Regions from separate parts of the Homo sapiens genome. Here region 1 is linked to region 2. The links come from fine-mapping of genetic effects on gene expression. A gene starts in region 2. The other region holds a variant in brackets. All regions are shown on one strand. Distances are between the middles of the regions. Region 1 overlaps JAML (junction adhesion molecule like). Region 2 holds the start of MPZL3 (myelin protein zero like 3).

Region 1 (4,399 bases), 30 kb after region 2:
TAAGTCACCCGTGGGTTTAGGTGGAGCTGTGACTGGCTGTTCTTGAGCTCACAGCAGAGCTCTTTCTTCACTGTTTTTCTTTTTAGAAGACAGTTTTTAATTTTATTTTTAAACAAATTTTATTGTGTGTATTTAAGGTATACAACATGATGTTGTGGGATGCATGTAGATAGTAAAAAGTTTACTATGGTGAAGCAGATTAATATATCCATCATTTTACATAGTTATACCACTGTTTTTCTTCTCCCCATTATAGACAAACCAATATTTAACCTTTAGAAGCCCGAGACTTAAATCTCCCAAGAAAGCTAGGCTACTGTCCATGCTTGTTACACCCTCAGCACAGCCCTGACCTTGGGAAAGGCTGATGCAGGATGGTTTAGGTATAACCTACTCTGGAGAAGAGAGCAGGAGTAAGGACCTCCAGGGTCCCATTCGCGTAGAGCATTAACCGATGTGACCTAGACTGTGTTACAGAAGCCACGTGACCTACCAGTCTGTATTCAATGGCTTAACAATGGAAAATGAGGGCATATTTTAAGACGCATGGCTTAGAGTGGTTATATGGACTTGTAGACCTAAAAACATCTGAGAGCCTAGAAGTGCACAGCAGTGTGCAGATAGATTGAGAGGACTTGGCTCTGCAGGTGGACAACACTCTGTGAGTAAAAGAAGGCTGTGCAGTTGTCCGTTTGCTCAGTGGTTAGTTGTCCTTACTAGGGACAAACACTGAGAGACAGCAGCTCTCCCTTATTTTGTCTCATGATATTGTAATTTGGGGGGTAACTTTCACATCTTGTATGGTAGTCTCATTGTAGCATGTCTCTTTTCTGAAGATTTCTTTTCTGTAATATAAAGGGGTATGGATTTTTTGGAGGGAGGGGGTGCCACTTGTTCTCATTACCCAACAGGATATGGAGGAGAGTTGCTCAGAGAAGATTAGTATAGAGTCACTACAAGTCATTTAGGTAGCCAAAATGATAACTCCAAAATTTCTAAAAGGCAAAAATCTTTACTTGCTGATAGAGGGGAGAGTCAACTTTCCAAGCAGGTCGCAATAAAGACAGCATGATGCCAACCGAATCTATTTCCTCTCTCCTCCTTTTTCTGTTGTTTATTAAAAGGTAAACAAAAATCTCATTATTTTAAAATATTATGCAAAAATCTTGTTTATGAGAGAAAGCAAAATTTCACCTTTGCATTAGTATATTATTAATGTTAGATCCAATTCTTAATAAAACCTTATAAACAAATCTATACAATCATAGTTTGACCATAAGGTAAAACGTCCACAAACCTCTCATAATTCTTTACAATTTTCTGTTAAACAAATAAATTCTCTAGAAAACCATTATTCAGACACATGGGCCCGGATTCTGGCCCTACATCAGTGTGCTTTTATTTCAGTGTTCGACCTATGGAAAAACTAAGTAATCCCCTTTAAATCTTAGCCAACCTGCTTATACCCACAGAACTTTTCATGAGATTAACCCTTCACAAACCCTTTTCAACTTGCTTAAACCATCAGTTTTGTCACATTACTCTTTTTTTTTTTTTTTTTTTTTGAGACAGAGTCTCACTCTGTCACCTAGGCTGGCATGCAGTGGCACAATCTCGACTCTCTGCAACCTCCGCCTCCCGAGTTCAAGTGATTCTCCTGCCTCAGCCTCCCAAGTAGCTGGGATTACAGGCGCTCACCACCACACCTGATTAATTTTTGTATTTTTAGTAGAGACGGGGTTTTGCCATGTTGGCCAGGCTGGTCTGGAACTCCTAACCTCAAGTGATCTCCCCACCTCAGCCTCCCAAAGTTCTGGGATGACAGGC[G/A]TGAGCCACCATGCCCAGCTGTCCCATTACTCTTTTAGGTGAGGCCAATAGTTAAAACCCTCTGAGCTAGACAAAATTACGTTCTCTTTAACAGAAACCATATTCACACGCCTTCTTATAACCTCCCACCAAAACACATTCTTTACTTACACTGTCTTTATTTTTTATGTTATTTACACTGTCTTTATGTTTAAAAATCATTAGAGTCACGTGACCTAAAAGAGATTAAAGTTTCAATTTTTTCTGATAAAATGTTTGATTTTAGTTTCTTTAAGCCAATTAATTAGAGCTCTTTTATATAAATACTATACATACAACACATATAAATACACAGACAGACAGAAATGGAAAATCAAGACAAAATTCCATTGACTGAGAAGTTCTTAGAGGGAAAGCAGGGGCTTTTTGTTTGTTTAGATGGAGTCTCGCTCTGTCGCCAGGTTGGAATGCAGTGGTGCGATCACAACTCGCTGCAGCCTCAGCCTCCTGGGCTCAAGTGATCCTCCCACTTCAGCCTCCTGAGTAGCTAGGACTACAGGTGCCTGCCACTACATCCAGCTAATTTTTGTATTTTTTTTTTGTTCAGATGGTGTTTCACCAAGTTGCTCAGGCTGGTCTCAAACTCCTGGGCTCAAGCGATCTGTCCACCTTGGCCTCTCAAAGTGCTAGGATTATAGGCATAAGCCACTGTGCCTGGCCAGCAGGGGCTTTTAAAACAATATCTGTATACATACAGCCCAAATATCGTCTTTAATTAAGTTGATTTCTGACTATGGAGTTCTCAAAATAAAAATCCTATAAAAATCTTTTATTACCAGATTTTAGCCAGGACAAATGGCCAATATTTCTGGCTTTTGAATCTTTACCTAAAGGTAACCTCCTATGTGAAATTAATAAACCTTAAGTAAGGGGATAACTTAAACAGGGACACACAAGGTGTCTCCAAAGAGATGGTAAGCAATTTACAAGATCTAGAATTGCCCCAAAGGTAACTCAGAGAAAAGAAAATTTCAAGACAGGAAATTAGGAGCTCTCCATGGAGGGGAAAAGAATCAATAAATGATTAAACCACAAAAGACTCACTTTTGGAGCCAGGAATTGAACCCAGGGCACCACTGTGAGAGGGCAAAGCTTTAGCAGTTGAGCTACAGCAGGGGTCCCCAACCCCTGGGCAGTAGACTGGCACTGGTCCATGGCCTGTTGGGAACCGAACCGCTCAGCAGGAGGTAAGTCGGGGGCAGACAAGCAAGCATTACTGCCTGAGCTCTGCCTCCTTTCAGATCAGCGAGGGTATTAGATTCTCACGGGAGCATGAACCCTATGGTGAACTGCACATGCAAGGGATCTAGGTTTCATGCTTCTTAGGAGAATCTAATTCCTGGTGATCTGAGGTGGAACAGTTTCATCCCCAAATCATCACCCACCCTCCCTGGTCTGTGGAAAAATTGTCTTCCATGAAAAAATTGTTTTCCATGGGGAAAAATTGTCCCCGGTGCCAAAAAGATTGGGGACCAGTGAACTATAGTGCAAGATAACTGCTGTTGTTTTTTTCCGGGAGGAGTTTAGAGCATTTCAAGCTTGCAAAGGATTTTAACTGCTCAAGAGAACTTTCTAGGACTAGCCATGTAATTATTACGCATGCTTCTTTTAATTTTGCCTTTTCCTTTTAATGGTGTACTCAGTTCCAATGGTGACTGAATCTAAAAGCCTGTTAAACTCCAGATAGTGATTTTCCAGATTTTTACCATATAAGCAAAAGGTATTTCCAGAAAGGGGTAGAGGAGGCATCTCTATGACAGGGAGCTCTTGAACTCAAGGGGAAATTGATAATTTTACTTGCCACCTCCAGAGTCACCCTTGGCTTTGTTTTGCTGTGATTTGGAATTCAGCGGGGGCAGAGAGCCCACTTCATTTTAAGGCCATCAGGGGCTAGAATTCTGTCCTCAGGGTCTTTCAGCCCTCAGGACAGTCCCATTTTCAGCAGCTGAGCTTGTGGCAGAGGGTACAAGCTGTGCGGGGCTTTTTCCCATGTATCCCATTGGGGCAGTTTGCCTTCCAGTGGCCTGGCCATCTGCACTGAGGGCACTTACCTGGAGGAGTGTCCTTAGGGCAACCTGGAGGGAGCTGAGGGCTTCTAAATCAGCCAACAATTGAGCCTGCCTTTCTTCCCTGCATTTTTCTTTCTCCTTAGCCCTGGCCTCCTTATTCTGCTCTTGGTTATAAAAGATCGAGGAGGCCAAGTTGAGGATTCTTTGCATAGGGACCACGCTGTATTACACAAGAAAAGTAGATGTTTCTTTTTGAGAGTCTGAGGGTTAAATTTGTCTCAATGTTTTAGGATGCAATGCAGAGGTGAGTCTGAAGGAACAGATGGGATTTGTCCCATGGTGGGACTGGAAAATGATGAGCCAACCTCTGGGGGCTAATGTCCGCTGGGGACACAAACTGCTTTCTCTTGAGGCTTCTCGCTGAGGAAAAGCGTTCCACTCTCATCCACTGATGGACTTGGGTGCACTTTCTAAAGGGCATCCCAGCTATCAGAAAGACTTCTCTGCACTGGGGCCTTGCACCG
Region 2 (4,399 bases):
GAGAACTAGAAGAAATTATTAACTTTTTTTCTTTTTTAATTCTAATTCACTTGTTTATTTTGGGGGAGGAAGACTTTGGTATGGAGCAAAGAAATACCAAAACTACTTTAAATGGAATAAAACCAACTTTATTCTTTTTTTCCCCCATACTGGTAGATAAAGCAAACTTTATAAGTGGGCTATTGAAAGAAAAGTTACAAGCTTAAGATACAGAAGCATTTGTTCAAAGGATAGAAAGCATCTAAAAGTTTAGGCTCAAGATCAATCTTTACAGATTGATATTTTCAGTTTTTAATCGACTGGACTGCAGATGTTTTTTCTTTTAACAAACTGGAATTTTCAAACAGATTATCTGTATTTAAATGTATAGACCTTGATATTTTTCCAATACTATTTTTTAAAAAATTGTATGATTTACATATGAACCTCAGTTCTGAAATTCATTACATATCTGTCTCATTCTGCCTTTTATACTGTCTAAAAAAGCAAAGTTTTAAAGTGCAATTTTAAAACTGTAAATTACATCTGAAGGCTATATATCCTTTAATCACATTTTATATTTTTTCTTCACAATTCTAACCTTTGAAAATATTATAACTGGATATTTCTTCAAACAGATGTCCTGGATGATGGTCCATAAGAATAATGAAGAAGTAGTTAAAAATGTATGGACAGTTTTTCCGGCAAAATTTGTAGCTTATGTCTTGGCTAAATAGTCAAGGGGTAATATGGGCCTGTTGTTTAGTGTCTCCTTCCTAAAGAGCACTTTTGTATTGTAATTTATTTTTTATTATGCTTTAAACACTATGTAAATAAACCTTTAGTAATAAAGAATTATCAGTTATATAATTTGTGTATATACATATCTAGAAGTTCTACATTGCAGGAAAAACAGATGGATATATATTTAATCTTTACCAAAAAGTTTTCTTAGTAGAGACAACCTGCAAGTCAATAATGGATACAGTTAGTTTCTAATGGGTAAACAGAAGTATACGGATTTCCACAGAATTTTCACACTGTTTTGGATAGCTGGGAATTGGGCATAACAACACTACTTAGTTTGAGGGCTCTTTCAAAGAAAAGTATCAAAGATTCTATTTAGTACTTTGCATTACACTTTTAATAGGGAAAACTACTGGCTTTCAAGTCTAGTAAAGGAATGGAAATTGAAAAATGGAAACTTATTAATTCTTCCCCAAAGCGAAAGCATACTTTTATTCTCCTCCTGCTTTCATTGACATGTGGCAATTTCCAGGGAAGAGGCTTACTGATTATTAAAGCAGTGTACTTATTGTACCATCTCTTTTTCAGAAGTATGTGACGCCATCTCACTTCAAGTACTGTGATAACATAACTTTCTTACTTTTCCAACCAAAGACACAGAAATCCCAGTTCCTCTTTTCCTCTAATACAGGCTGTAATGATTTGATCATCATTGCCACCGCCAAAAGTAATTTAATAAACACCCAATTTTGGAGGCTGCAATACTTACACTAAAAAGGACACCAACCAATGAGGCTTGTGGCACATATCACTACAAGCACCTAATATATATTTATCTATACTGTATGATCTCCCAGGTGTTTCTGAACTCTAAATTTACAGTAGTGTATTCTGAGAACCTTCAACTAAATCTCGAGACGTAAAAACGATGTCTGACATGCAGTCAGAGCATCAAAATTATTTAGTTCTGCAGAATTCCATAAAAACAAAATTGTAATTATTCCAAGTCCGTAGCCTACTTCATTTTCAAGCAAAAGAGAGCATTTAGCTCCCGCCTGAAAGTTAATAAATCTCTGGTCAGTGAAACCAGGTGTGGTTCTGGAAAGAAGCCAGGTTCCTATGGTAACTTCGGATCGCCATTTAAGTTGTCTCTCGGCCTCCTGCTCTGACGTCACTTCCGGTGTTACCTGTGTCGTTACCGGGAGCTGTAAACAAGGTGTGCAAGCATCTGAAGAGCTGCCGGGATGCAGCAGAGAGGAGCAGCTGGAAGCCGTGGCTGCGCTCTCTTCCCTCTGCTGGGCGTCCTGTTCTTCCAGGGTGAGTGCTCCGGCTGGCTACGCTCCACTTCCGGCCGGGGGGTTAGGGAAGATGGTCGCTTTTCCGGTTCCGGGTAGGGGGGTCTCCAGAAAGCCCCCGCATAGCTCTGGGAAGGAAGGAGGGAGGGAGCGGGACGTTGGGACGATGTCATCACCACCCCGTTGAGGATAGTTGGTATTTTGTCAGTCCTTTCCTGAGCTTTGGGAGCTTTTTCACCTTGCGTGACCTGTCATTGTAGTTTGGTGATAGCATACTTGATGGAACCACAAAGAGCTCTGGCTTTGGGGGCACCCGGTGTTATTTTGTGGTGTTATTATCAGTGGTTGACCGCTGTCGTTTGGGCGCTGTATACCCTGATTAGAAAGAAAACAGTTCTAGCATTCAGTAGTTTGCCCCAGTAGTTTTGGGAAACAAAATCATGACAGTTGGTAATTTTATTTTTTGTAGGTGATTATTGTAGTCTATAAAATGAAATATTTGCTAGTCACAGAAGGGATGTGATGTGATTCGTTATAGAGAAGCATATCGATGAAAAAGTAACTGCTTTAGCATTTTCATAACTTTTTTTAATACAAGAAAGAGCATATAAATTCTGTTAAAATTTATTAAGTAATATCAGAAGTAGGGTATTCACACTGACATTCACATCTTAAAATTAGGTGAGTTTTGCTTTCATATAATTTTCAAATTGCATAAATTTCAATCCAGCCTAATTACCTTCATCTTAAGGTACAATTATTTCCTGGATTTTGTGTATGTGTGTCTTCCTGGGAAATAAAATATTAGTATATCTAGTATTAGAGTGAATTGCTAAATTTATAAAATTTCCTTGAGGGTAATGGGGATTTCTGAAAGAGATATTTAATATTATATAAATATAAATAGTTTAATATAAAGACTTCAGATGTCCTAAATCTTAGCAGTTAAGGCTGGAAAGTTTTTAACTGGTGACTAATATTCATGTTGCCAGCACACCCCCGATCCCTCCCAGCTGCCTGTGTCATCATAAGTCTCCAGTTTTTAAGCTAAATTACTTTGCAGTATGATATTTAGGCTGGCCTACTGTCACTCCTAATAAACCCAGTCCTCTCTCTCTCTCTTTCACACACACACACACACACACACACACACACACACACACACGAGAAATATTCAAATATTGTCTTATTGAGAAAAAAAATCTGGAAATGGTGTTTTCTTAAATCTAATGTCATTTTGCTTTGAAGAGCATCTGTCAAGTCCAGCAGACCATATAATTCAATCAAACATTTAAAGTTGATTTTACAATCTCTATGTACTTGTGGAATAGATTTTTTGCCTTTTAAAAAATAACTGGTGGCAGGGTGTGGTGGTTCTTGCCTGTAATCCCAGCACTTTGGGAGACCGAGGCAGCTGGATCACCTGAGGTCAGGAGTTCGAGACCAGGCTGACCAACATAGTGAAACTCCGTCTCTACTAAAAAATACAAAAAAAATTAGCCAGGCGTGGTGGCGGGCGCCTGTAATCCCAGCTACTCGGGAGGCTGAGACAGGAGAATCGCTTGAACCCAGGAGGCAGAGGTTGCAGTGAGCTGAGATCTCGCCATTGCACTCTAGCCTGGGCGACAAGAGAGAAACTCCGTCTCAAAAAACAAAAACAAAAACAAACAAAAAAGAAACAACTGGTTTATCATATTATTCACATGCCATACAATTTACTGTCTTAAAGGGCATAATTGAATGGTTTTTAGTATATTCACAGTTATGCAATAATTACCACTATCAATTTTAGAACATTTTCATCACCCCAAAGAGAAACTTGATACCCATTAACAATCACTCCTCACTCTCCATTTCCCTTAGCCCCTGGCAACCACCAGTCTATTTTTTTGTATCTATTGATTTGCCTATTCTGGACATTTCATATAAATAGAATAATATCTGTAATCCTAGCACTTTGGGAGGCCGAGGTGGGTGGATCATTTGAGGTCAGAAGTTTGAGACCAGCCTGGCCAACGTGGTAAAACCCTATCTCTACCAAAAAATACAAAAAAAAAAAAAAAAAAAAAAAAAAATTAGCCAGGTGTGGTGACATGCCCCTGTTATCCCAGATTCTTGAGAGGCTGAGGCAGAAGAATCACTTGAACCTGGGAGGTCGGAGTTGCAGTGATCTGGGATTGCACCACTGCACTTCAGCCTGAGCGATGGAATGAGATCCTGCCTCAATAAATAAATAAATAAATAAATAAAAATAAAGTAAATGGAATTACACAATATGTGCTTTTGGTGACTGGCTTTTTTCACTTTGCATGTTTTCAAGGTTCATCCATTTGTTTGGTGTTTTAAATCTTATGTGGTTGAGTTTGGTTTCATGTCAG

The links. PIP is the estimated chance that this variant, and not a neighbour inherited with it, causes the effect.
Region 1: its variant is the best candidate, but not a certain one, in a credible set for the expression of MPZL3 in whole blood (INTERVAL, PIP 0.61).

The regions. Positions count from the first base shown.
Region 1 is chr11:118,220,261-118,224,659 of GRCh38, reverse strand. The region is part of intron 1 of JAML (junction adhesion molecule like); the gene reads left to right. Among named protein-coding and RNA genes, the nearest start is that of JAML, 2.6 kb to the left of the region's middle. The variant G/A (reference allele first, on the strand shown) is at 1,828.
Region 2 is chr11:118,249,866-118,254,264 of GRCh38, reverse strand. It overlaps MPZL3 (myelin protein zero like 3), which reads left to right and starts at 1,900. Exons shown (of 6, transcript NM_198275.3): 1 at 1,900-2,043. The coding sequence starts at 1,971. It overlaps MPZL2 (myelin protein zero like 2), which reads left to right. Exons shown (of 6, transcript NM_005797.4): 6 at 1-849. RefSeq lists enhancers at 1,458-2,018, 2,368-2,417, 2,019-2,580.